Homo sapiens: one gene and its partners. The protein of the gene in region 2 purifies or fractionates together with the protein of the main gene of each other region. This does not show direct contact. Each region holds a gene or a part of one and is shown on either strand. Other genes may lie near its edges.

The links.
Region 1: the proteins of SHISAL1 (region 2) and SLCO4A1 purify together in Homo sapiens (affinity purification with mass spectrometry; one large-scale study listed by BioGRID and IntAct). This does not show direct contact.
Region 3: the proteins of SHISAL1 (region 2) and ABHD12 purify together in Homo sapiens (affinity purification with mass spectrometry; one large-scale study listed by BioGRID and IntAct). This does not show direct contact.
Region 4: the proteins of SHISAL1 (region 2) and EDEM3 purify together in Homo sapiens (affinity purification with mass spectrometry; one large-scale study listed by BioGRID and IntAct). This does not show direct contact.
Region 5: the proteins of SHISAL1 (region 2) and PTDSS2 purify together in Homo sapiens (affinity purification with mass spectrometry; one large-scale study listed by BioGRID and IntAct). This does not show direct contact.
Region 6: the proteins of SHISAL1 (region 2) and SAMD8 purify together in Homo sapiens (affinity purification with mass spectrometry; one large-scale study listed by BioGRID and IntAct). This does not show direct contact.
Region 7: the proteins of SHISAL1 (region 2) and KCNN4 purify together in Homo sapiens (affinity purification with mass spectrometry; one large-scale study listed by BioGRID and IntAct). This does not show direct contact.

The regions. Positions count from the first base shown.
Region 1 is NC_000020.11:62,645,503-62,649,002, reverse strand, and holds part of SLCO4A1 (solute carrier organic anion transporter family member 4A1), read right to left. Parts: intron 43-3,500; exon of another isoform or gene 1-42. UniProt on the Homo sapiens protein: Organic anion antiporter with apparent broad substrate specificity.
Region 2 is NC_000022.11:44,243,165-44,246,951, forward strand, and holds the end of SHISAL1 (protein shisa-like-1 precursor), read right to left. Parts: 3' UTR 501-3,787; downstream 1-500.
Region 3 is NC_000020.11:25,299,714-25,303,835, reverse strand, and holds the end of ABHD12 (lysophosphatidylserine lipase ABHD12), read left to right. Parts: intron 1-207; coding exon 208-286; coding exon of another isoform or gene 287-538; exon of another isoform or gene 539-1,489; coding exon 1,490-1,617; intron 1,618-2,457; coding exon of another isoform or gene 2,458-2,479; exon of another isoform or gene 2,480-2,504; intron 2,505-2,951; coding exon 2,952-2,991; 3' UTR 2,992-3,622; downstream 3,623-4,122.
Region 4 is NC_000001.11:184,716,859-184,720,358, forward strand, and holds part of EDEM3 (ER degradation-enhancing alpha-mannosidase-like protein 3 isoform 2 precursor), read right to left. Parts: intron 2,711-3,500; coding exon 2,585-2,710; intron 2,388-2,584; coding exon 2,304-2,387; intron 766-2,303; coding exon 682-765; intron 155-681; coding exon 30-154; intron 1-29. UniProt on the Homo sapiens protein: Involved in endoplasmic reticulum-associated degradation (ERAD). Accelerates the glycoprotein ERAD by proteasomes, by catalyzing mannose trimming from Man8GlcNAc2 to Man7GlcNAc2 in the N-glycans.
Region 5 is NC_000011.10:470,779-474,278, reverse strand, and holds part of PTDSS2 (phosphatidylserine synthase 2), read right to left. Parts: intron 385-3,500; coding exon 302-384; intron 1-301. UniProt on the Homo sapiens protein: Catalyzes a base-exchange reaction in which the polar head group of phosphatidylethanolamine (PE) or phosphatidylcholine (PC) is replaced by L-serine. Catalyzes the conversion of phosphatatidylethanolamine and does not act on phosphatidylcholine.
Region 6 is NC_000010.11:75,110,470-75,114,455, reverse strand, and holds the start of SAMD8 (sphingomyelin synthase-related protein 1), read right to left. Parts: upstream 2,801-3,986; 5' UTR 2,734-2,800; exon of another isoform or gene 2,678-2,733; intron 1-2,677. UniProt on the Homo sapiens protein: Synthesizes sphingolipids through transfer of a phosphatidyl head group from a glycerophospholipid on to the primary hydroxyl of a ceramide in the lumen of the endoplasmic reticulum.
Region 7 is NC_000019.10:43,774,474-43,777,973, forward strand, and holds part of KCNN4 (intermediate conductance calcium-activated potassium channel protein 4), read right to left. Parts: intron 2,164-3,500; coding exon 2,068-2,163; intron 147-2,067; coding exon 1-146. UniProt on the Homo sapiens protein: Intermediate conductance calcium-activated potassium channel that mediates the voltage-independent transmembrane transfer of potassium across the cell membrane through a constitutive interaction with calmodulin which binds the intracellular calcium allowing its opening.

The DNA of each region.
Region 1 (3,500 bases), on a different chromosome or scaffold from region 2:
TTCTCTGGATAACTCAGACTAATACAAGCCAGTCCTTCCATACTTTGGTACCGACTTCCTAACGCCTGCTATGTGGGAAACCTGGGCTTCAGGGACTCCCAGGACACTGTCGCACCCACGAGGAGCCCAGGGGCGGTCACTCGAGAGCTGGGTGCAAAAGCTGCCCATGGCTGCGAATCAGAACCGCCTGGCCGGTGGGGACAAGAGGCCCGGAGCCTGGAGTGAATTCCAGTCATCAGCCAAGGCCCTGGGAGCCAGGCTTAGGGAGGAGGCTCTGACAGCACACCACCACCATCGCTGCCCAGGAACCTTCTGGAGGCCTGAACCAGCTGAGCTCTCCTGTGCACACACAGTTACTGAAATCTGCCCCATCACGGGAGGAGGGTCCATCACCTCCATGGAGTAGGGTCCTCTCCCATGGCCTTGTACTCCTGACGGCTGCTCCAGAATGAGGGACAAGGTCTCCCCTGGGGCTCCGGCCACACGGCTCCCATGCAGCCGGCAGGTGGGAAGGAGCCCCTGGAAGCAGAGCCTGCCCATGTGCCCAGGCCCGGAGCCCTGACTGGTGGCCCCGCCCGTGAGCCACTTCAGGCCCCCTGTGGCTGCCCCGCCCCAGGGCACCCACTCACCTCTCGGCCCATCCTTTCCCCACTGCCCTGATGCCTCTGTCCATGGGAGAACATCTGAGGCGGAGCCTTAGGTGGCTCTCAGCCCGAGAGAAACGCAAACCACCCCGCCCCTCCGGTGCATCTAGAGAGCCAGCTGCCCTTTCCCTGGGAGCTTAGCCCCCTCAGGCCCTGTCCCTGCTCTAACCCACAACAACCCCGCAGGGGAGGAAGGGGGGATGTTGCTGCCAGAGGCCTTGGCAGCCAGGGTGTGAATTAGGCCAAGGCGATCAGCCGGGGGATAATGTGTCCCTGGAGCCTCCGGCTGGGGGCAGGCCTGGGGAGGGTGTATGCGTGCGTGTGCGCCTGTGTATGGGTCAGTGCCCGCTATTTTAGGAGGAGGCCATGGGGGCCAGAGTTCTCTTCCGATTTCCTCATGCTGGCCTGGTCAGTCAGCTGCATCTCCGGGATAGGAGGCCCTGACTCCTCTGCTAGGGTCTTTTAGAGGCGAATCCGGCTGACCTCTTCCTCCCCCTCCTCTCAAGCCAGGACAGTGACCTGGGAGGAGCTAGTGGCCACGTGCGGGTGGCTGGCACAGCCCAGACTGTGGGAACTGGGGTGCCAGCCTGTATCCCCGTGTGTGGGCAGCTGACACAGCCCGGCCTGTGCCACTTCTAGAAGCCCACCTACTTCCCTAGGCCCCATGCACTTACTTCCCAGCCTGGCTCCCTGCAAAGCGCTCTCAGCGCAGTGCGTGGAAAGGACGCAGGATCTCTGAGAAAACTATTTTAAGCTTGCCAGCCCCTGGGCCTGGCCTGGCTGACCTACTGTGGCCCAGCAAATGTCCCCAGGGAGGCCTGGAGCTGGGCTGGGTGGGTAGCACCCCTCCACATTAGGGGATGTCCCAGTCCCGGCTTCCAGGCCCCACTCAGAATTTGGAGGCCAGGCAGGACCATAGGGTCTCAGTTCTCCTTTCTCTTCAGATTCCAGCCCAGGCACTGCCTGGCAAAGCCGAGTCCCTCCTCCTGGCACCTGACGGCTCTGAGGCTGCCAGCCACAGCCACATGCCTGCCCTGCACCCAGCCCCGCCCTGAGCACCTGCCTGCTCCCCACACCATCTTCAGCTGCCTCCCCTGCCACACCAGCCCCCCAAGACACCTGGGACTCTCTCCTCTATCTCCAAATTCACTCCAGGGTCTCTTCCTCAAGCTGGATGAATGAATGAAAGGAGCTTTCACTTCTTTAGCTTGAGGCACAGACTCTGGGATCAGCATATGGGGGCCTCAGCTGTGCCTGGTACACCCCAATTTGCATACCTGGTGACCTCGCACAGGCGAGCAGGCAGGAAGCCATTGCTTTGTATGGGGCCGACAATGAAGGATTGTCTGAGCAAGAGGGAGCCAGGGTGCGGCAGCAGGGCCAGCCCAGAAGGACCTGTCCCTCAACCTGCTTGCACCCAGTCTCCACCCACTGAACCTGGGAGCGTGGGGAGGACGGGTGAAGCCACGGGTGTGTGCAGGTTTACTCTTCCTTCCGACTCATCATCCCATCCATGGAACTGAAAACTCTCCTGCCATTCAAGGGCATGTTTGAGAAGAAGACGGAGGCTGGCTCCAAGCCACGCAGGTCACGGGCCTCTCTCTGCCTCAGTTTCCACCCATAACAGAGACATCATGAGAATGAGAATGAGCCACTGAGCGTCCTACTCAAAGTGGGCCCAGTCAGCACTGGAGTTCATGGGAAACAGACTCAGAATGGAAATCCACCCTGTCCGGCCCCGGAGCCCTGCAGGCCCTGCCTGCCGCAGGTCCCCACTGCTGCCCTGGCCTCCTCAGCCTCCTTCCATGGCTGGGGTGGAAGTGGCTTGCCCTGCCCATGCTCAGGACCCCCGCTGTGCCTCGGCTACTGGTGAGTGAAGGCGTAAGTGATGCCACAACTCATGTTTTCCTGCATGTGGGGGGACCCCTTTACAGACCCGTGGTGTTCACAGCTCTCTTTGTCCTCTGGGGAAGAGGAAAGGACCTCCCCAGTTCTCAGGCTAGTCCTTGGGCACAGGGCCTGCTTCCCAGCCTGCTGTGCAGAGCAGCCAGGGCTCTGGGACTCCTGAGGGTGAAGGTGAGGAGGCAGGGGATGCCCAGGACCTCCCTCCTCCAGGAGAGCCCTGTGCACCACAGGAGGCAGGGCGGGTGGTGGGAGGGAAGGGCGGGCAGCTCAGAGGTCCGCCAGCAAAGGGGCTCAAACCTGACCCCCAATGTGTGGGAGAGACAAGACCCAGAAGGGCCCTCGGGGAGCTTGAGAGGCTGCAGGGAGCAGGTTCTGTCCAGATGAGGAACCTGCCTGGCACAGCTGGGCCACTCTCCTCCCAGGTGGCCTCCTAGGCCCATGGGTCCAAATCTCAGGTCCACAGCGCCTCCCGAAAGGCAGAGTCCAGTGGCAAATGCAAGGGCCCCAAGTGAGCCTGGGGCAGACTGGACGACACACGCCACCCAAAGCATCGCAAGCTCTCCCTGCGGCTTGGGCCAGAGGGGCAATGCCTCAGGTGCCCCCCAAGGCTTGCCAGATTAGAAAAACCACCAAGAAAAGGCAAGGTCCGTGGGCAGGAAGGGCCTGGCTGCGCGTGGGAGGGAGAGGAATCTGGGCTCTCTGGCACCCAAAAGCGACCCCAGCCACTGGTGCCAAGTCTCACCCTACGCTTGGGCTACGTGGGGAGCGGCTTCTGCAGAAGGCACGTGGTTTGAAAAAGCAGTCACCTTCCGCCAGAAATGTAGTCCCAGGGTCTAATTCTGTGTGATGCTGGTGGGAAGGAGGCTACTGAAAAGAACTGAAGGGTTGGAGACAGCCGGAGACCCCAGTGTCTGAGGACTGAGGGTGAGGCTGCGGGTGAGGATGAGGGTG
Region 2 (3,787 bases):
GCATCCTCACTCCTCCTGCTGGCAGGTGGGGCCAGAATTGACTCTGTGTCCAGCGTGAAGGACACACGGTCCCAGTGTGAGGGATGGTAGCTTTTCAGGAGCACAGTGCTCGTTAAAGGAGCTTACTCTGTCCCCTCGCCAATGAGATGACAAACAAGAGGCACCTGGCATGTCACACCAGGGGCCACGGATGGCATGCCATCTGCAGTGATGCCCGCCCCCCCCACCCTCCACGTGCTTTCAGCTCTGTCTTGTTGGGTGCTAGTGCCAGATTCAGGGCTCTGTCACTCCTCTCTGACCTTGCCCCTGCCCCTTTGGAGGTGGCGTCCACCTGCCATTGGCATTGAGTGTTCAGGATGGACTCGTGTGTCCAGCTCCCCCTAACACCACGTTGGCTGGGACCCCAGCCCCTGGTCCTCCACCCGCCCCAAAAGAGTGACAAATTATGCGGGCACAGGTTCCCTTGAGCTCATTTTGAAACACTGAAGCAAACGTCAATCTAGGGAACAGTTGACATGACACTCCTTTATTAAAACCTAGGGACATTGTTATAAAAACTACTGTATATAAAGACAAAAGCAGAGCAACAGCGGTCAGTGAAAAACACATGATTATTCTTACATTCTAGTATTATTATTAGGAATATTATTGGTTTTGGTTTTCCCGGTTATCAGCTCTCAGGGAGACCCCATGCCTGCTCACATGAAGTCAGAGTTTACGGGAGAGAAAATATTTCCATCCCCCTACCCCTGCGCTGCATGCCCTTGTCCAGCTGGCCCTGGGGACGACACATCAGCCTTTTGTGGGAGGTCTCCTGCCTTGTTAAGGTGACTGAGCCCCTCACCCTTGCAGCCCCCACCTCGTTACTGCACATTGTCGAGACACTGACCACTTGGTTATTTGACTGTGAGGTATGCCACTAGCTTTAAAACGGGAAATGGGAAAAATAGGAAGAAACTGCGTATGAGAAACTGACATGCAATTCCAAGAAGAGGCTCTCTCTTGGGCCACCAGCTTGGTTCCAGCTGTGGCCAGGGTGGCCATATCATCTATAGTTTTAGATCCTGTGCTCAGGGTTGGCGCTGACCAATGTGGGATCCTGCACATTTTGGAGGCTGGTTTAGGGTCATTCAACAGGGTACCTCATTGTACAAACCTAAGGGTCACCGTTCTCAGTGCAGTCTATGTAAACAGTATCCCTGGGAGCCCATTACCATTTATGGGACAGTGTCGTGAATGGTGCCTCCTGGAGGTGAACCCTGCAGCAGCCCCGGATTTCAGTCTGTCAAGGGCAAATCTGTCAGGGCTTTGATGTAAAGATAGGAGTTTTAGGTACAGAGTAACTAACAGTCAAATCTGCTCATTCATCAAGCATCTATCTAGCACCAGCTGTTGGCTTGGACTAGAAACTGGGGTGGTGGGGGGCAATGACACCTCCAAGGTCACTTTCACGGGTGGGACAGGTAAGTGTTCTGAATTCATTTTGTGAATCTGAGCATGTCTGTTAGGCACAACTAGCCGTTTCACAAGTGGTCCCAGCTATAGCAGGAATGGCTCCCAGATGGGCCCTGGGTACAGGGCCAGGCAAGTGGCAGGCACTCGGCAAGTATCTGAATAGGTGAGGGAAGCGCGTGTCATCGAATGAGTTTTCTAGGAGGCTCCTCACCTCTTCTAGCTTGCCTGACTGCTTAACTTTAACATTTGAGCTTTTCGGGCCACAACCACCAAAGTTGTTTGCGTGCATTTAAGCACCAGCGTGGGACGTGTTGGTGCTACAGCAAGGAACTAGGGCACTGTGCATGGCATCTGGCACATAGTAAGTGCGCAGGCTTGTCTTCCAGAGGGCACAGGGTATGGCCCCAGCCCAGTGAGGTATTCCTGGACTGCAAAGGGCAGTGATCAGGGCGTCATCCACTCATGGCCTCTCTGACTGTCCCAGTGCTGTGGGGGCCAAGCAGACACCCTCTGATGCCCACCACGTGAGCAGGATGATTAAGAATTCCTGCAGTTTGCTTCCATGATTCCAACCCTAGATTTTCACAGCAGACGAAAACAACCCACGTGGATGTCTCCCTACAGTGATAGGGGGCCCTTCAACATTGATAAGACATGTTCCCAATAACTCCATCCAGGTCTGTTCTTCCTTCCTTCCTTCTTACCTACCTACCTAGACAGAGTCTCACTCTGTTGCCCAGGCTGGAGTGCACTGGTGCGATCTCAGCTCACTGCAAGCTCTGCCTTCTGGGTTCATGTTATGTTAATTTCAAACATGGGAGAAATCTGTAAATTCACTTCCGAAGGCTTTTCCTGTTGATGGGGACCAGTTCAGCCAAGTTGAAAAATTAAAAAATTTTACAAGTCTGCACCCCCGGGGACCCCGTCTCCTTGAATGGCACAGTCTCTAATAGACAGACATGGTGATTGTGAAAGCAGCCGAGCCAGCGGAGGGGCCTGCCTGGGGATGGCAGCTGGAATCCTGAGCCAACCTGGACAGCGGCCTGTGGGGGAGTCAGTGCCAAGCACAGCCACACCCACAGCCCTGGTCTGTTTGCCATGACCTGAAGAGAGCTTTTGGGTTGACGGTGAACTGGAAACCATCTCCTGGCCAAAGAAGCCTGTTAACCCCTAGCCCTGTCATGTTTTCCCTGACATTCCCAAGTCCTCCTCTTCAGCTCTGGGCCAAAATTTGACTGAATCTTTCTGATGATGAGGGGAGATGCCACTCACCCTGGGAACACTGTCAGCTGCCTACTTGCTGCTTTCTAGAGCATTGGAGACAGCAAGAGGGACCAGATCTACCTGTGAAATCACCTGTGTGTGTGCGCGCATGTGCATGTATGTACTTGTGTGTTTTTTCAATTAAGGCCTGTTGCACATCAGCAATGGTCATGGTCAGGTGGCTGGCCTGGCCGCTGGAGCAGCCAGGTGAGGCGGGTGAGAAGGCTGCTTCTCTAGGTGCAGGGCACGTTCAGAGGCTAACTTGAGGGCAGCGAGCCAGCAGGCATTACCAGCTATTGGTTCTGAATAGAGATTCTGAAACACACAACAATCACACCGTACACAGACGAGAGGGAAAGCATAAAACTGCTCATTAATTACACACAGTTCCCAGTGGGAAACAGTCCTTACAAACGCGGTAGTTCTGCAAACAGCCTCGAATGCAGATTCCTCTGTGGACATCTTGTCCTCTTCTCTCTCTCGTTTTTCTTTTTGTATTATTATTATTACAAATTACATGGTGATGGACAGAAGCTCACAGTAAAAAGTAAAAGTAGGCAGCTTAAAAAATCAGGTTGAGTTGCTAAAAAACAGTAACTCTAGCTATGCTTGAACTCGTCACTACCCTGCATCCATCTTGTTCTCAGGGACAGTCTACTCCTTGAGGGACCTTCCAGCCACAACCACAGCAGGATGGGGACAGTGTTTATCACAATGACCTGGGGACCCATGGCATTTTGAGGAGCCCTTGACACCATTGGGGGATTGAATACACACACACCTGCTTTCCACACTGAGTGTTCACACCCACATGCACACTGTTCTCACCTGTCGGCTCCTCTGTGAGACAGCAAGTACCGTGACTAACTGGTACCCTACCTCACACACTTGACAGGTGAGAAGCAGAGGCTCTGAGAGGTTAAGTGGCTCGTGGGGGTGACCTGCAGGAAGGAGGATGCCGTGGCTGTCTGCACCAGGTGTGCTGGGTCTTGGTGATCTCTGCTGAGGCCTCCTGCTTGCCACAGAATGTTCCAGTCCTCAGCCCAGCTGCCCAAGAGGGACTTGGCAG
Region 3 (4,122 bases), on a different chromosome or scaffold from region 2:
CTGTGATTGACACCTGTCATCTAGCTGTAATAGATGTTCATAGAGATAATGAAGAGTTAACTTTCAGTTGTCTAGTAAAAAGAAATCCAGCAGAAATCAGGCTGTTTCCCAAAACACACCCTGAACCCAGATCCCTGCCATGGACAGAGGGTCTGGGCAACTCTGCCCTTTCCCTGGTCTTGGTCTAGCCCCTTCTCCCTCCTACAGCGTGAAGCACATCTCCTGTCCCCTGCTCATCCTGCACGCTGAGGACGACCCGGTGGTGCCCTTCCAGCTTGGCAGAAAGGTGGGTCCTGGCCTCTGCCTCTGGTGTAGCTGGCATCTTGCACACTCAGCCAGTGTGGGTGGACCAGGCTGGGAGTGGGCAGGCGGGAAGGCAGCCCCTGCATGCTGCATCACGGGCTGCGCACCAGCCACGTCAGGCTCAGGAGGCCACCTCATCCTCCCTGCGTCACCTCCAGGCTGCTTCGGAAGGACATGGGAGGTCTGGTGTAAAGGTTGGGGCAGGGGCCCACTGATGCTGTCTCCAAGAATATGAAAAATAAGCAGATAGTTCCCAGTCCTCACACAGGGGTTATCAGAGTGGGCTGCCTATGTTATCAGAGCCCAGGCCAACCTGGGAACTCAGCTGGAAGGGCTCATCAGTTATGGGCTGAAGGCAAAGAACCCCTTGATGAGGATCTCCCAAGCCCATTGCAGGGGTCACAGTCAAAATTGATAGAGAAACTTCTAGCCTGTTTCCTTGCCTTTGGAATTGCGCTGATACCAGAACCAGACCATGCTGTCTGTGGGGCCTCAGTGTTTGCTTTTGCTGAATTTGCTTTGACTGTCAGCAAGTTGGATTGGATTTGTGGCTCAGAGTAGGGTAAGAGAAGGCAGCCTGGGTCTTGGTAATGGCAGGGCAAACTAGTTGGGTGTGTGCAGGCCTCGTCCACGGATTCAGCCCAGGGCTGGGAGCACTTCCTGCTCTGACAGCCCCCATGCAGTCAGGCTCCATAAGGCACACAGATGACGGAGCCACACAGGGCAGGGGCAGAATGCAGAGCCGCCCAGCAGCGCACAGCTCAGGCCCACCTACCCTTGCCGAAATGAGAGGGGGAGGGGGCTGAGATGGGTACATCAAGCCCATCTTAGCTAAGCCTGAGGCACATACCTTTTGTCCCAGCTCCCCAAGACTGTGCCATCCCTGCCATCAGAGCCTCCCAGGCACCTGGTCTGGCTCATCCACCTAGCCACTCCCCAGAGGAAGGGTAGTCTATAAGGTGTGAGGACAGTATCTTGAGTGGTGTGTGCCCAGGAGCCAAGCCTGGGGCCTGGCTCCTCCCAGCCCACCCCCGGGCCTCCTGGTCGTGACCGGCTGTGGCAACAAGCAGTGTATGTGGGACTCTGGACTGGTTTCTATTGAAGGGGAGGCTGCCAAGCTGGTGTTCCTCAGGCTGGGACCCCCATGCCAGGCCACTGCCTCAGGCTCTGACCCCTCTCTCCCCAGCTCTATAGCATCGCCGCACCAGCTCGAAGCTTCCGAGATTTCAAAGTTCAGTTTGTGCCCTTTCATTCAGACCTTGGCTACAGGCACAAATACATTTACAAGAGCCCTGAGCTGCCACGGATACTGAGGTGAGACATTCTCTTCCCACCCAGGGGCTTCGTCTGGGCAGCACTGGCTCACACCTAACGTGCAGCAGGTGGCAGCTGCTGAAGCTGCTCAGGGGGCCTCAGTGGGGCCAAGAGTCACAGTGATTTGGGAGCCTTCCATTTCCTTGGCAGAGGGGTTTGAGGGAGTGCCTCTCTCCTGCTCCAGGACTGTTCACATGATCATGCAGGGTGAGCCGCCTCCATGTTGTAAAGGATGTACAGACCCACACGGGGGGGCACACACGCTCACAGGTGGCCATGTTTGGGAACACTCAGACACAGACACCCCAGCCACTTGCAGGCCTCGGATCTCTTCCACACACCTCTCAAGACGTACACAGCTCCTCAAAAGCCTCTTTGTCCCCAGCTGCTTCTTGAAGGGACGTGGTGCTCCTGACTGCCCTGCACTGGCAGGACATGGGCGCCAGCCCAGAGAGCCATGAGTACCCACCTGGGCCTGAGTGCAGAGCCCAAGCCTGAGGGTGAGGCCTTGGCAGTAGTGACAAGGGCAGTGTGTGGAATGGACCAACCCCCGGCCTCCTCTGTACTGCCCTGGGCCCTATGCAGGTTGCTGCCCAGACTCGCCTACCTGCCTGTCAGAGGACACAGGCCCCCACCCCACTGCCTGGCTGTGTGGCCTTGGGCAAGATGCTAACCCTCCCTGTGCATGGGACAAGGCTTCTGAGCCGAGGAGGGCATGTGGTACTTCGACCCTAAGCACTGGACCCACGGAGGGGCTGCTGCTAATGGTGATAGAGTTTTTTGTTGTGTTGTGCCAGTCAGCTCCAAAAAGTAGGTCAAGGTGCCAGTTTCTCCCTGCAGGGGACTGAAATTGGTGGCCTGAATTGCCTCCCAGTGCTGTATATCCCGTGAGTAATTCTACTGCAAACTTCTGCTTTTCTCCAGTTGCCTTTGGAAGTTCCAGAGGCAAAACTGTGTCCCTTTAGCACAGGTACCTGGGTTGCTAAGGGGGCAGTGGGCTCAGAGTATGGGTTTGCTTTGCGGTTATAATTTTCCCCATTATAAAAGGAAGATATGTGTAGAAAATTTAGACCAGAGAATAGCTCTGAAGTTGAGGGTCAAGAATCAGAGACCTTGTCTCCATGCCTGTGTGTTGGGCTTTGACTTGGCACCACACTGCTTGTTCCCTGCCTAACTCACTGAGTGCTGCTCTGGGCTACAGCGCATCCTCATGGGGCTCTTGGCTGCCTCCTCTCTGCACAGCCTCTGCTTCCTTAGATAGCAGTGTGAGGACTGTGGAGAAGGATCTTTGGTCTGAGCTCAAATGATTGGCTCCTGATTGTCCTGTGGTCTAGGGAATTCCTGGGGAAGTCGGAGCCTGAGCACCAGCACTGAGCCTGGCCGTGGGAAGGAAGCATGAAGACCTCTGCCCTCCTCCCGTTTTCCTCCAGTCAGCAGCCCGGTATCCTGAAGCCCCGGGGGGCCGGCACCTGCAATGCTCAGGAGCCCAGCTCGCACCTGGAGAGCACCTCAGATCCCAGGCGGGGAGGCCCCTGCAGGCCTGCAGTGCCCGGAGGCCTGAGCATGGCTGTGTGGAAAGCGTGGGTGGCAGGCATGTGGCTCTCCTTGCCGCCCCTCAACCTGAGATCTTGTTGGGAGACTTAATGGCAGCAGGCAGCCATCACTGCCTGCTTGATGCTGCACTGAGCTGGACAGGGGGAGTCCGGGCAGGGGACTCTTGGGGCTCGGGACCATGCTGAGCTTTTTGGCACCACCCACAGAGAACGTGGGGTCCAGGTTCTTTCTGCACCTTCCCAGCACATGCAGAATGACTCCAGTGGTTCCATCGTCCCCTCCTGCCCTGTGTACCTGCTTGCCTTTCTCAGCTGCCCCACCTCCCCTGGGCTGGCCCACTCACCCACAGTGGAAGTGCCCGGGATCTGCACTTCCTCCCCTTTCACCTACCTGTACACCTAACCTGGCCTTAGACTGAGCTTTATTTAAGAATAAAATCGTGGTGGTGGTCCTTTTGTCTCTCTGCAGCGCGAGAAGGGTCAATGTTGCCTCCTCCATGCCCCAGAGCCGCCCACAGCCTAGCCTCTAGCCGCTTTGGAGCCACTCCATGACTCAGCCTCAGACTATGAAATTTTCTAGTCCCAGCAGCTCAGAAATTTGCCAGGAGTAGGAAGTTTTGTTCACCTGCTCGCCCCTTTCTCCAAGTTGCAGTCCCAGCATCAGCAGCTGTGGGCTGGCAGGGAGCCCAGAGGTCCTCGCGGTTACACTCCTTCACTGGGGTACCCTGAGCTACCTATAGCGGTTCTCAGATCTACAAAACACTTTTCCTACGCAGGGGAGCAGCTGAGTAGACATTACTTCTGAGGTCAGTTCATGAGAACACTGGTCCCCCTCCTGGCCAGGGTGTGCCCCAGCTCCTGGTCCCTAATTAGGGTGTCATTTCTGTTCCACCCACCCACGGCCCCAGAGACACCACCTGCCCCAGGGTTGGGATCTCCTTGCATGGCCATC
Region 4 (3,500 bases), on a different chromosome or scaffold from region 2:
AGGAAAGAGGATGTTAGCAATTGTTTTACCTGTCCTCATGACTTCCAGTACGAACATCCTTCATGGCAGCAAATCCGCAAGGCACTCTAGCATATTTATTTAAATTTTCAATAAGTGTCTTCCCTACTTCAAGGTAGTAAGGATCTCCTGTAGCCTATTAAAAAGGAGAATATATGTATAATATATATAGCTTATATATTACCACATATCCATTCATTTACCAAATATTTATTGAGTACCTACTAGGTGCCAGGCACTGTATCAGGCACTGAAGGACATTATATAGAACTGAGTTCTGAAAAAAAGCTATGAATCTGCTTTACAGAATTTCTTAAATACACAATTATAAAATTTAACTATATAACCTTAGTTTTTAAATTTCTAATGCTCAGAAAGGCTGCCTGAAGAAAGGCAAGAGACATGCTTTAGAAAGCAGCTCTAGAACATAAAATTTCTCTTTAAAGAAATGTTTACATAATATTTTTTAAAGAAAAAAACCTTGCATGTCAATTCTTGCATCATTCAATAATTCTATGGACTAGATGAATAAGAATCATGATATATCCAATCATTATAATATTAAAAGGGGACTCTGAAAACCCAATTACTATTATGAAAGAATGAGAGATCCAACAGAGAATGGAGGCTAAACTTTAAGTAAAATGGGGTATATTTTCTTACTTTATATAAGAAGTAGGTACTTTCTGCAAATTCTGGCCTTAAAGGATGTTGAGCCCAGTGTACTCTGAAATCTGTGGTAAATGCCTGAACAAAACAACATACAAAAGGCATAAAAAATGTGATTAAATACACAAGTAGTTCCAGAATATATAGAATATATATAAATAGGTAAAAGCAATTAAAATAGCAATCAGGACATTTTCATCAATAAAACATCAATTTTCATTGCTTAAAATAACAATTCATTTTGCAAAGGCTGCTATTTTTACCAATTAAATTGATTATTTTTTCAGTGATCATTCTGGCTATTAGAAAACTCAGAAAAACTCCATAATGAAACTCAGCAATGCCACTACATGGGTCCTGGTGGTAAACATAATTGTGTTTTCTTTTTATCCTTCCCTCTACTTTTTCCTCTGGATTATTACTCTCCTAGTTCTCATATTTATTTTTAAATTTTTTAAATCGACAAATAAAAGTGACATATATTTATGGTATATGACATGATGTTTTGATATATTTATACACTATGAAATGGCTAAATCAAGCTAATTAACATATGCATTATCTCACATAGTTCTCTTTTTTTGTGGTGAGAATACTTAAAATCTCTCTTAGCAATGTGTAAGCATACATATTTCATATTTTAGCTTATATTTTCTAAAAGCCTCAAATCCTTTGTGGAATAAGACAGAGCATTATTTAGAAATAAATAAAATTAGTCTATTTGAAATTTATTCAATAACATAATCAATTGGTTTTTAAAAGAAAATAAAAATAAAAGCAAACAAAAACTTTTATGGGAGCTAAATAAAAATTTCATTTGTGATAGATGTATTAATTGAAACCTCAGTTTATTCTGTATGGATATGAATTTTCTACAATGCACAGTCCTACTCACCCGAAGGCTAATAAAACTATACTTTCCAAAACAAACACTTTAGGAACCCTTCTAAGTTGGTAGAATGCTTAGATATCTCACAGAGGGTAGTCAATAAGCGGGGATAGAACAAGGCCATACACACATTTGGAAATTTTTAACGGTACATTTCTGGGAAGCCAAAAAGTATGCTATTAAAATCTTGTCATATTAAGCTAGCAAGAATATTTATTACTAATATGATGTATAAAAATCAGGAAGAATAATTCTCAATCAGCATGAGGAAGAGATGGCATTCTATACATTTCCAGAGGGCATGTGTGAACAACAAAAGTATATCTAATATATACTGTTTTCATAAGACAAGCTTTAGAAAATAAAAAGTGACAAAATCTCCCTAGCTGGTAGGTACATACAAGAGTTAGAATGAGAGAATATTACAATGGCATAAGTTAGGAAGAGTTGAGAAGAACTAAGCTGGGAATTTTTTTACATAAAATTTTAAAAATGTCAGCATTACCCTAAATCAGACTTCTCTTAACACACAAAGAAAAGCAAAAACATATATAATACTGTACAAACCAAAAATAAACTATTTAATAGGAAAAAAATAAAAAGAACCAACAAGCCTTGAAGATGACATTTTCTACCTTTATATTAGCAACTTATAGTGTATATGTGTACGTGTGTGTGTGTGTGTGTTTGTGTGTGTGTAAGATTATTCCAAAAATTATTTGCTTACCTCTGGTAGAAAATTGTGTTTTTTAATCACCTGATATAACATTTCATGAGTTTCAATAGCAGGTCTAATATCCCCCTTTAACACCTAGAAATCAACAACAATAAAATTACCTAATAAAATATGAGCTGATTTTATCTCTAATCATTACATAAACAGAAAAATGTATACAAATACAATTCTGAACTGCAACTATGTTTTGTAGTTCAGTTTTAAAGATCAAAAATGCGCCTAATTAACATCATCATCTTACATTCATATTAAGAAGACAGAATTCTTTATACCTGCAAGCCTGGGAAGAAGGCAAGCAAAGCATCCATCCAAGTCCGAGCATTCAGCATTGGTTTGTGGATATGCACATCAAGTAGAAGAGGTGGCTGGCTAATATACCTCATTATGGCATCATAGTGCTAAAAGATCACAACATGTGTTCATGAAAGTTAGATGAAAAAAGAGGTACTACTCTAAACACATTAAATAGCACTGTGAATAAATTAAACTAGAATTTATATATAAATTCACTAAATAACTACCAATTTATATAAATATTTAAGTTATTTTAGATGGAGATCTTTCTAAAATATATATGTACTCCTTTATGTCCTCTAACTCACATGCAGACTATTAAAGACTATCTGTAATATAGGACCTTCTGAGAAAAATGGAACTGAACATCTCTATGCCCTGTGGCGTTAGCCCGTGGTTGGTATGACTTTGCGGCCCACTGATGCTCATAGGTCCCCTTGTAATATAGCTATCAGCTTCTGTATTACAGAATTTGCTTTTTCCTGTATCTTGGAAGTTTGATCCCTTCTCGGCTAACAATATTTTGGTGCTCACTACTATCTAAACTAATGCAGCTAATCACTGCTGCCACTCTTATGGTTTGCTATCTCAGCTTATTATGGTCTTAGAAAACTCTTTTTCCCTTCTTTTGTCTTCTTCTCCTAGATATTTCTCAGCTTTGACAAAAGGTTGAGTTGTGATAACAAGCCAACAAAAATAGTTATTTGTCCCCATTTACCTCAAGAAATTCTTGTTATAATCTAATAAACAATCTATGTGATAATTTTAGAAAGTATTCAATTAATGACTTATTAACTTTTACTAATTTTTTTTTTGCAAATTTACCTATTATTTAATCACTATTATTGAATATTGGCCATAGGTTAAAGGCACTGCTCTAATCACTTTGAATGC
Region 5 (3,500 bases), on a different chromosome or scaffold from region 2:
CGGCCACTCTGGTCTGTGGAAAGAGGAGGCAGAAGCAGGAAGAGAAGGGCTGGAGAGCCCTGGACAGGGAAGAGTGAAAGGGCCAGAGAAGGCCTGGAGAGACCCTCGGTGGTTGGAGGAGGAGCACACGGCCAGCTCAGAACCCCACGCCCTTGTCCATGTGGGAAGTGGCCTCGGAGGCCTCGGGGAGGGGCCAGGCGGAGGGGAGGACAGGACACTCACACCCAGCAGCACAGACACAGAGTGGCCGCTCAGAACAGAAATGCCACAGGGGCACACGGAAAAGGAAATGGCAAGTTACCTGGATGAGGTCTGGAAAATGGCCCGTCTTTAGCTTGTGTGACTCCAAAACATAAGAAAACCAAAATACTGGCCACAATACCTCTGCAAATAAAGAACAAACAGCCCCTCAGTGTGTGCAGGCTTCTCCCAGGAGGGAGGTGGGAGGCTGCAGGGACCCCCAGACACCCATTGTGGAACAGCCCCTGATGCTGGGGCGGGAGGAAGGGGCCTCGGGCAGAGCTGGGCGACTCCGCCGCGGGGAAAGCCCAGCTACCTCCACCACCCTGGGCCGGACATTCGCCCTCACATTTGCCGCCTCCGCGGCAGGGAAGGCCCAGCTACCTCCACCACCCTGGGCTGGACATTCGCGCTCACATTTGCCTCCTCCGCGGCAGGGAAGGCCCAGCTACCTCCACCACCCTGCACCCAACATTCGCCCTCACATTTGCAGCCCGCCCAGTGGCCAGGAGAAGGTCCCTGTGCTTGGGCTGCTGGTGGTTCCCAGTGTCACATCAGGAAGACACTGGCTCTACACAGAGGCCACCGAATGCCCCGCATGTGACCATCAGTGATCACAAAGCCCACGTAGGAGGGAAGGCGTCAGGAGCTACTGCCTCCCTGCTCCAACGCGGCAGGACCCCCAGGAAGTGTCTCTAGAGAGCTCCTGTGTCTTTTTGGTGTCAACTCATCCAAAACCAACGGGACTCCTGTGATTCATAAGATGGAAGCGTGAGAGCTGTAACTGCAACCAAAGATGCAGGTTCACGGGAAGGAGGATGCGAGGGACCGCTCTGGGCAGGGGCAAGGTGCTCCCTCCTCGGCAAAGCTCCTTGGGGCCGGCCTCAGCCAGAGTCCCAGTGGGTTTCGGTGAGCAGCAGCTTAGGCCGGCGGATGTGCAGACAGCCCTGGTCACAGGCACACTGCTCACATCCGCTCGCTGCACCCAAGGTGTGGACCCGCTCTGCGGACGCGCTCTGTGCTCTGCAGACGCTCGGATGCACCCATCCTCTCCAGTCGTGCTCAGCTCAGGGTCTGAGATCCACTGGCCGCTGCACCACCCAGTCCCTCCCACGGCTCGGCAGTGCCGTGCCGACAGTCACACCTTGGCGTGTTCGCACGCTGGGCGGCCTCTGGGTTTTGGCTGCCGTGAGGGAAGCTGCACACACACACGCACGTTCGTGTGGCCGCAAGAATAGACGGGGCCACAGAGACACGCTATCTATTTTTTAAGACAGCGCTGTTAAAAAATACCCAGTAACAACTTCAGTCTCAGAAATTCCCCTCTCTGCCTGCAGGAGTGCCTGGCCTCAAAGTCCTGAGTAGACAGAGGCAGGTGAGGCCAAGCACCGCCCGAGGCTTGCAGGATGGAGGAGGGCACAAGGTCGCTGGCCCCTGGTGCAGCCGGGACAAGGGTCTACTGCTTCTGGGCAGGTGCTGCTCTCCACCCAGAGCCCTGAGGGTCTCACCCTCGGCAGGACATTCATGGCCCACCCAGGCGAAACCTGAGTTTCTGACCCGGTCTCCACCCAGGCCCCAGCTCCCACACTACCGCTGTCAGCCTCCAGGGACAGAGGCAGAGATGCCCTCGCTGCTGGGTTCAGCAAGGTGGGGCCCGCGTCCCTGTCACCGGTACCCCTCCCGAGGTCTCTCAGTGCTGAGGGGTGGGAGGTGTAAAAAGTACCTTTCAGGGCCCCCTGGAGCCAGACATAGGCCCCACCTCAGCTGTGCCTCCAAGGGGCGTGGGGAGGGTCATAACATTCAGTGGAAAGACAGTAAAACGTCCCCCTACCCTCCCCAGAAAAGATAAAAATGAAAAGAGGAACATGGGCACTGGCCAAGGGAAGCTGCTCCCGGTGCAGGCGCACGTCACCCCAGGCCGCCATCCGCGTCACCCCAGGCTACCATCTGTGTCACCCCAGGCCGCCATCCGCGTTACCCCAGGCCACCATCCGCCCGACAGGCGCGCATCACCCCAGGCCGCCATCCGCGTCACCCCAGGCCGCCATCCGCGTCACCCCAGGCCGCCATCTGCATCACCCCAGGCCGCCATCCACGTCACCCCAGGCCACCATCTGCCCGACAGGTGCGCGTCACCCCAGGCCGCCATCCACCAGACAGGTGCGCGTCACCCCAGGCCACCATCCGCGTCACCCCAGGCCACCATCCGCGTCACCCCAGGCCGCCATCCACGTCACCCCAGGCCACCATCTGCGTCACCCCAGGCCGCCATCCGCGTCACCCCAGGCCACCATCTGCGTCACCCCAGGCCGCCATCCACGTCACCCCAGGCCACCATCCGCCCGACAGGCGCGCGTCACCCCAGGCCGCCATCCACCAGACAGGTGCGTGTCACCCCAGGCCGCCCTCCGCCTGACAGGCGCGTGTCATCCCAGGCCACCATCCGTGTCACCCCAGGCCGCCCTCCGCCCGACAGGCGTGCGTCACCCCAGGCCGGTGCTCCCTGAATCAGCTTGTGGCAGCCCCCACACGGCATGCTGCCCAGAGGCCAGCTCAGACCGGGTCACACAGGACTCTAACCTGGCCACACATCACATAATGTTTATGACAACTTTATAAGGCTAATTTGTTCATAAGAATTACTTGCCGGGCACAGTGGTTCACACCTGTAATCTTAGCACTTTGGGAGGCTGAGGTAGGTGGATCATTAAAGGTCAGGAGTTCGAGACCAGCCTGGCCGACATGAAACTCCTGTCTCTACTAAAAATATAAGAAATTAGCCAGGTGTGGTGGCAGACGCCTGTAATCCCAGCTACTCGGGAGGCTGAAGTAGGAGAATCACTTGAATCTGGGAGGTAGAGGTTGCAGTGAGCTGAGATCGCGCCACTGCACTCCAGCCTGGGTGACAGCAAGACTCAGTCTCAAAAAAAAAAAAAAAAAAGAATTACTTAAGTACTTGAGAAGGTGTGTCCCGTTGGGTAAGAATGAGGGAAGTGCTTTAAAAGGAAAACAAATATATTGCATTTTAAAAATAAATTTTTAATTTTAGAATGGTTTTAGATTTACAGAATTATTGTAAAAATAGTAAAAGCTCCCATATCTCACAGGCCCAGTTTTCCCATTAACATCTCACCATTAATAAGCCGGTGCTGGCTGGGTGCGGTGGCTCACGCCTGTAATCCCAGCACTTTGGGAGGCTGAGGCAGGCGGATCACAAGGTCAGGAGTTCGAGACCAGCCTGACCAACATGGTGAAACCCC
Region 6 (3,986 bases), on a different chromosome or scaffold from region 2:
TTGCAGAAGGGGGGTTATGGTACTGAAATCAAAACTGATTTACCTAAATATGTCTGCATATTCTGCCATCGCAGTCATGATGGCTTCTTCTGCCTTAGAGAAACCGATTTTTTTTTTTTTTTTGAGACATATCACTCTGTTGCCCAGGCTGGAGTGCAGTGGTGTGATCTCAGCTCACAACCTCTGCTTCCCGGGTTCAAGAGATTCTCCTGCCTCAGCCTCCTGAGTAGCTGGGATTACAGGTGTGAGCCACCACACCTGATTAATTCTTTTTATAGTATTAGTAGAGATGGGGTTTTGCCATGTTGGCCAAGCTGGTCTTGAACTCCTGACCTCAAGTGATCTGCCTGCTTCGGCCTCCTAAAGTGGTGGGATTACAGGAGTAAGCCACCACACCTAGCCAAAAACTGATTTTCTTTATTCAATGGGTGTGAGAACTGACAAAGGGAAACAAAAATTAAAAAACTATTAGACATGCTAATATGTTAATTGTACAACTCCATCTAACAGTTTCTCTTTAATTTTGCAATAACATTAAGCTGTAATCTTAATAGAGTTCTTATATTGCAGTTCAGCAAATTTTTACATGCCATGACTTTTATTCACAACTAAGTATGAAGATAAGGTCTCCAGAGGATCTCACTCTAAAGATAAAACCAACAAACAGTAATATTACATAAACTTCAACTGAAGATAATTTGTATTAAGTTAAAGAAAAGGGAATTAATACTTTAACAATCTCAGCATTTTTAGCTAAGAATTCACATATCCTTTGAAGAAACAATTACTATTCCACTGTGCATCTGAGGGTATGTCACATAGCCCATACACATAAACTAATTTAAAAGCTGTTGCAAATCAAATTATCATCTCATGAAGATTAAACAGTAGATATCCATTTAGATTTAATCAAGCATTTAGAAAACGCTTGATGCTAACAAAAATTAGCCAGCCATGGTGGCGCCCACCTGCAGTCCCAGCTACTCCCAGCTACTTGGGAGGCTGAGGTGGGAGGATCACTTAAGCCTGGGCAACACAGCGAATCTCTGTCTCAAAAAAAAAAAAGAAAGGAAAGAAAAGAAAAGAAGGAAGAGAAAAGAAATGGCCAACAACTTTACAAACCTATAATCACATAAAAAGTTGTAAAACATATGAGACATGTGGCTAAAGTCAAAGACTTCATGGAACCATGTTATGACTTAACAATCACAAAAGGAAGTCAATTTATCTCTACTAAAGTGAATATAAATATTGCAATCATTCTTTTTCTGGCATAATTATGTTTTGGAACTATGTCTTCTATAAAAAGCATCTGTATACCCACCTGTCCCAGTTGTGTTGGCTGCCAACTACAAGCATCCTCTGTCCTTATTTTTCCAAATCACTCTACTAAAAATACTATTCACACAATACCTGCAAAATAGTATTTCAATATTGGTTTTGCCAATCAGTCAAAGGTACCTCTCCAATTTTCAAGAGATAAGTCCAATCCTGGGGTTATCAGTGAGAGGAAGATTTGGTATTGCGCCTAGACTGTGGCAAGTTCACTGTGCCCCCTTCACCCAGAAACTTGCATTGACCATACATTTACTATGTGGCAAATACATGTGTCAACTTAAAACTTTGAAAGTGGAACCAGTCCATGTTGAGTATCTGTAAAATCCAAGTGTCCAAATTCTTGTTTCAAGTTTAATTTTTAAAATCTGAGTATCCAAAGTCTTGTTTCAAGTTTTTAAAACTTAAAGGTAATATAGTAAATTTTTAGGATCTTAACATGTCTGGTATTTAAACTTAGCTACGAAAAAATTACAATGAAAAAAAGGACACCATTACTGTCAATAAATCCAAATGATATCTTCATTTTCAGAATCACGTCTTCCACTACCTTCTTCAAACATCACTTCCTCTCCACTACTTCCCCCAGTCCTTTAGGCAAATCAGTGATTCACACCGCCCCTTCCACCCAAGATTCTTAAAATGATCCACTGTGCACGAACGAGAAAGCCCCACGATCCAAGTACATTGCCCTAGTGATCTTTGATGTTTTAAAAGGCACCTGTAAAAATGCCAAAGCCCAAAATTAGATCCCCAAGGGCTCCTTTTCTTTCTTGACCACACTTCTCTTTTTCAGTGCCTCCCTCACCCCTTGAGGCCAGACGATTTCCCATCCAACAGCCCTCCTCCTTCTAGTCAAACCTAAATCCTGCCCTCCATCACCACCAGCCCCACCCGGGGTGGGAGGCGGATAAGAGGGCTCCGTAAGAGGAGAACCCCATGAGAGGGCTCCAGTCCCAGCCCCGATCGCCCTCCCTCGCCCTGGGAAGGGAACACCGGCCCAGGTCTTGCTCCTCTGACTCCTCATCCCCGCTGCCAAACCCAGAGCATCTCTTCTTCCGGGTCCACATTCCCGCAGGACCTTCGATCTTTTTCCCCCACTGCGCAGCTTTCAAAAGCCCCCAAGCTCTGGGCTCTTCAAGCCTCCCCCTCTCGCTCTCTCCCTCTCGTTCCTCGGCCTCCACTTATCCCTCAGCCTTCAGGCCCTCAGTTCGACAACCTCCATTTGCTTCAGATTCCATTCCAGAGCTGACTATCCCGGTTCCCTCAACCGTCTCCCCGGGGCCCCTCCAGGTCGCGGTCCCTCGGCAGCCCCCGGCTCCATCCCAGACTCCCCACTCACCCTTGGCAGCAGGCGCCCCCCAAGCTCCCCTCTCCTCAGCCTCAGCTCCCGCTCACCTCCGCGGTCCGAGTCGGGCTCCCCGGACCCACCTCCGAGTCGGCGTCCGAGCCGCCGTCGGAGTCCGGGGCCCTCCCCGCCTCGCCGGAGTGAAGCGCCTCAAGCGGCGGGGGCGGAGCCCGGGGCGGGGAGCCGGAGTGGAGGCGGGGGCGGTGGCGACTGCGCGCAGGCATCGTCCCGGCCGCCGTCACCGCCGCGCCGGCAGCTGCTCGGAGCCGAACCGGAACTGCTTCGGGAGGCGGGGCCCTACCGGCCGGGGACGGGGTTCTACCGGCAGGGGGCGGGGCCCACACTGGAAAAGACGCGAGGCTCCAGATGGGCCCGAGAGGAGAACCGAGATGCTGCCGCGGAGGAGCCCGAGGGCGCATGCGTCATGCCGGAGGCCAAAGCGACAGGAGGAAGCGGGGCTAGCGGAGCCGGGGCGGGGCCTGTGGGATCAGTAAATGGGGTTAGGGCCTAGAAGGAGGTAATCCGAATTCCTCTGGAGAGAGCCAGCTCTTCTCCAATAGCCAGCCCCCAATGATCATTGTTATAATTTATTGCCCATTTACTCTTTGACAGTGTCTATGCCAAACGCCATATAAACATCTCATTTAATCCTTGTGCTAAGGCCGGGAGCGGAGGCTCACGTCTGTAATCCCAGCACTTTGGGAGGCTGAGGCGGGATCACCTGAGGTCAGGAGTTCGAGACCAGCCTGGCCAGCATGGGGAAACCTCGTCTGTACTAAAAATACAAAAATTAGCCGGGCGTGGTGGTGCATACCTGTAATCCCAGCTACTCGGGAGGCTGAGGCAGGAGAATCGCTTGAACCCGGGAAATGGAGGTTGCAATGAGCCGAGATCACGCCATGGCACTCCAGCCTGGGCGACAAGAGCAAACTCCATCTCAAAAAAAAAATCCTAGTGCTAATTCTGCAAGGGGGATCCTATAGCACAGAAAAGTAAAGAAACATACTGCCTGACATATTGCAAACTGATATTCCAACCCAAATCTCTCTAACATCAGATCCTGTATTTTCCTCACTCCACCATGCTGCACCACCCTGAGGGAAGGTCTCCTCCCAAGCCAGGTCTAGCATTGGCATAAACCAAGTCCAAACCCAGCTGTAACCTGGACACGAGCCCCTCCTTGGTCTTGCCTCCCCACACAGTGCCGGGCCGACTTCAATGGTTCTGAATGGGATAGACATGAGTGTAGACTGCTTCCATGGGATGCCCTGGTGTGGCCTTTCCCTTCAAACTGGTCTTAAGG
Region 7 (3,500 bases), on a different chromosome or scaffold from region 2:
GGCGCCCCTAAATCCTGCACGCACGGCGGGCCCCGCACGGGCGCCGGGTGCAGCCCACACACCACCAGCTCCAGCACGATCTGCGCCGCCTGCCGCCCGGTCAGCGCCACGCGCCAGTCCCGCAGCCCGTTGTCGGTCATGAACAGCTGCCGGTAGGGGGCCAAGAAGGGAGGGGTCAGGAGCAGGTCAGGCGCAGGTCAGGCGGCGGCCCGCGCCTGCCTGCGCCCTGAGATAAGTGGGGTGTGCCGCCTGGCCAGGAGGGAGGGAGTGCAGGGCGGGAGAGGGATAGGGAGGGAGCGGGACAGGACTTGAGGAAGACATCTTTCCACTTTTTCCTCCTTCCCCACCACCCACCCCACTAGTTTCAGCCCACTTCCAGCCTTTGAACACTGACTGAGCGCCGACTGTGTGCCTGACATTGTTCTATGTGCTAAGGATACACAGTGAACCCAACAGACCCCCCTGCCTCCCTAGAGCTTGCATTCCACATGCCTGGAGCTCGCTCCTACTCCCCTTTCGGTTGACACGCGTAATAACTGTAATAATAATATCAGCAATAACAAAGCCATGGGCCGGGCGCGATGGCTTACGCCTGTAATCCCAGCACTTTGGGAGGCTGCGGTGGGTGGATCACTTGAGGTCAAGAGTTTGAGACAAGCCTGGCCAACATGGTGAAACTCCATCTCTACTGAAAAATACAAAAATAAGCCGGGCATGGTGGCGCACACCTATAGTCCCAGCTTCTGGGGAGTCTGAGGTAGGAGAATCACTTGAACCCAGGAGGCAGAGGTTGCAGTGAGCTGAGGTCATGCCACTGCACTCTAGCCTGGGTGACAGAGCGAGACTCCATCTCAAAATAAACAAAACAATAACAATAACAAAATCAGCATGTACTGGGCACCGTGGATACGCCAGGTACTGCTCTATCCCGTTTACATATTGTGACTTAGTAAATGCCCACAACCCAGTGAGATTGATATTATTATTGCCCCCATTTTATAGATGTGGAAGCTGAGGCCCAGGTCCCTTCCATGGGCAATGGCGCACTGGGCTACAGGCTACTTAGCTACTCTATGATAAGATGATAATGTGCACTGTTTACTGAGCACCTCTTATGTGCCAGGCACTGCTCATAGAATTGCCACACATGGCCAATAATCCCCATTTTACATGCAAAGTTATGATAGGAGAGGGGGAAGAGGGGAAAGGGAATGGAGCAACAGGATCTGGGGCAATGGGACAATAGGGGATGGGATGTGTCTGGGTGAGACCCAAGGTGGGGTATGGATGGGGAGAGCTCCTGGGTCTGGGGCAAGAGGGAGGTTATTGGCACAGAGATAGGGTGATTAGGAGTGGGCACCCCTGGGACCGGACCAGGTGCAGTGGCTCAAGCCCGTAATCCTAGCACTTTGGGAGGACAAGGTGGGCAGACTGCTTGAGCTCAGTAGTTGGAGACCAGCCTGGACAACATAGTGAAACCCCGTTTCTACTAAAATACAAAAAAATTAGCTGGGCGTGGTGGCATCTGCCTGTAGTCACAGCTACTTGGGAGGCTGAGGCATGAGAATTGTTTGAACCCAGGAGGTGGAGGTTGCAGTGAGCAGAGATCGTGCCACTCCACTCTAGCCTGGGCAACAGAGCAAGACCTTGTCTCAAAAAAAAAAAAAAAAAAAAAAAAAAAAAGGAGTGGGCAGCCCTAGGACCTTAGGTTGCTTGAGGACTGGATTGGGGATGCCATGTCGGAGCACAGAGATCTGGGAAGCTGAGTGCCTGGGAGCAGAGTGGACAGAGGCCTGGGGGCGGAAGCAGGGCTGCAAGGGCACTCTCAGCATCCGTGAGTGTGCAAGGGGGGGCTGGGGACTACAGGGGAAGGCGGAGCTGGTGGGGGAGGCTCTGCCTGTCTGCTCATGGTTCATCCCATCTGGGTAGGTGAGGGTGTGGACGCAGCACCTAGGGCAGAAGAACTTCATTACTCAGATCAGGAGGAGGAGGAGGGTGGAAAGTGTGAGCTGACAGGGCGCTGAGGGGGTTGGAGGGAGCAAGGCTTAGGGGCGGGGCCTGCCCTACCTGGACCTCTTTGGCATGAAAGGCCACGATGAGGCAGAGGAGTAAGAAGGTGGAAATGCTGATCGTGCATTTAACCAGGAACAGGTAGAGCGCCCACTGTCAGGGGGGACGGAAAAAGCGGTGTGAGATCCCAGGTCTCCCTCCGCCTGGCCCTCCACCTTTCCTTCAAAACCACCATTTTTTTTTTTTGATTCCCAATTTTCCTAGCCTCCTTCCCCTGCAAATCAGTCCCTCTTGATGTGTCGGTTCTGGAGAAGTCTCAAAACCATCATCTGGGCCCAGTGCGGTGGCTCACACCTGTAATCCCAACACTCTGGGAGGCTGAGGCAGGTGGATCACCGAAGGTCGGGAGTTTGAGACCCCCTGGCCAACATGGTGAAACCCAGTCTCTACTAAAAAAACAAAAAATTAGCTGGGTGTGTAATCCCAGCTACTTGGGAGGCTGAGGAACCAGAATCTTGAACCCAGGAGGTGGAAGTTGCAGTGAGCTGAGAGATCGCGCCACTGCACTCCAGCCTGGGCAACAGAGCGAGTCTCCGTCTCGAAACAAGCAAGCAAGCAAACAAACAAACAAAAAAACACCATCATCTGGTCCCCAGGAATGCTCTCTTTCTCCCCAACAGGACAACCCTGTCCAGATGCTGGTGTCTACCCTCTTCCTCAGCTCTTCTCCCAAGACCCATACCCATGAAGGGGGACCTTGAAACTCACATTCCTTCTTATTCCTGTCCCATTTCACATCAAAAATAGTTCTTCAGGTGTGTGTGTGTGTGTGTGTGTGTGTGGGTGTGTGTGTGTGGTGTCTAGAAAAAGACATCTAGCCTCTAGAGAGTGCCCCCTCCCCTTCCCTTCCTACCCACCTGGTGTTGTCCTAGAAACCAACTTCAATCAACCCCAACCCCAGATCTGGAAGAATGTAGAAACTACCATTCAATCCTCAAAGACTGAGTCACACCCTTCTCTGCTCTCATCCGGAGGGCTGAGTCCCTGAGACCCAGCCTCAGCTCTGAGACAGCCCCCTCGGTTCTGCCCCCCTGCAGCTCCCCACTGCCACCCCTCTCTTCTGGCTCTAAGCCCAGGGCAGATCTGGCCGGAAGCACAGGGCCTCCAGAAACCACGGAGAAATTGTTCCTTTTTTTTTTTTTCCTCTCTTTGTGTGGCACAACCTTGGAGGAATCTAGAATTCTGGAGAGAGGGATTTAGAGGGGACTGGGACTGTTGGATTTCCTAAGAGGGGTTGGTCCCTGCCTGGCGGGTATTTGCAGGGGGAGGGGACCACCTGGGCGTCCTTACAAAGCATTGCACCTGTTTCTCCTAAGAGGGCTGCCAGCTCCCCTGGCTGGGCCAGCATCCCGCCTCTGAGCAGGGGAAGAGGGCCAGTTTCCTGCCCCAGGGGCCTGCTCCCCAACCCCCTATCAGAACAATAGTGCTGT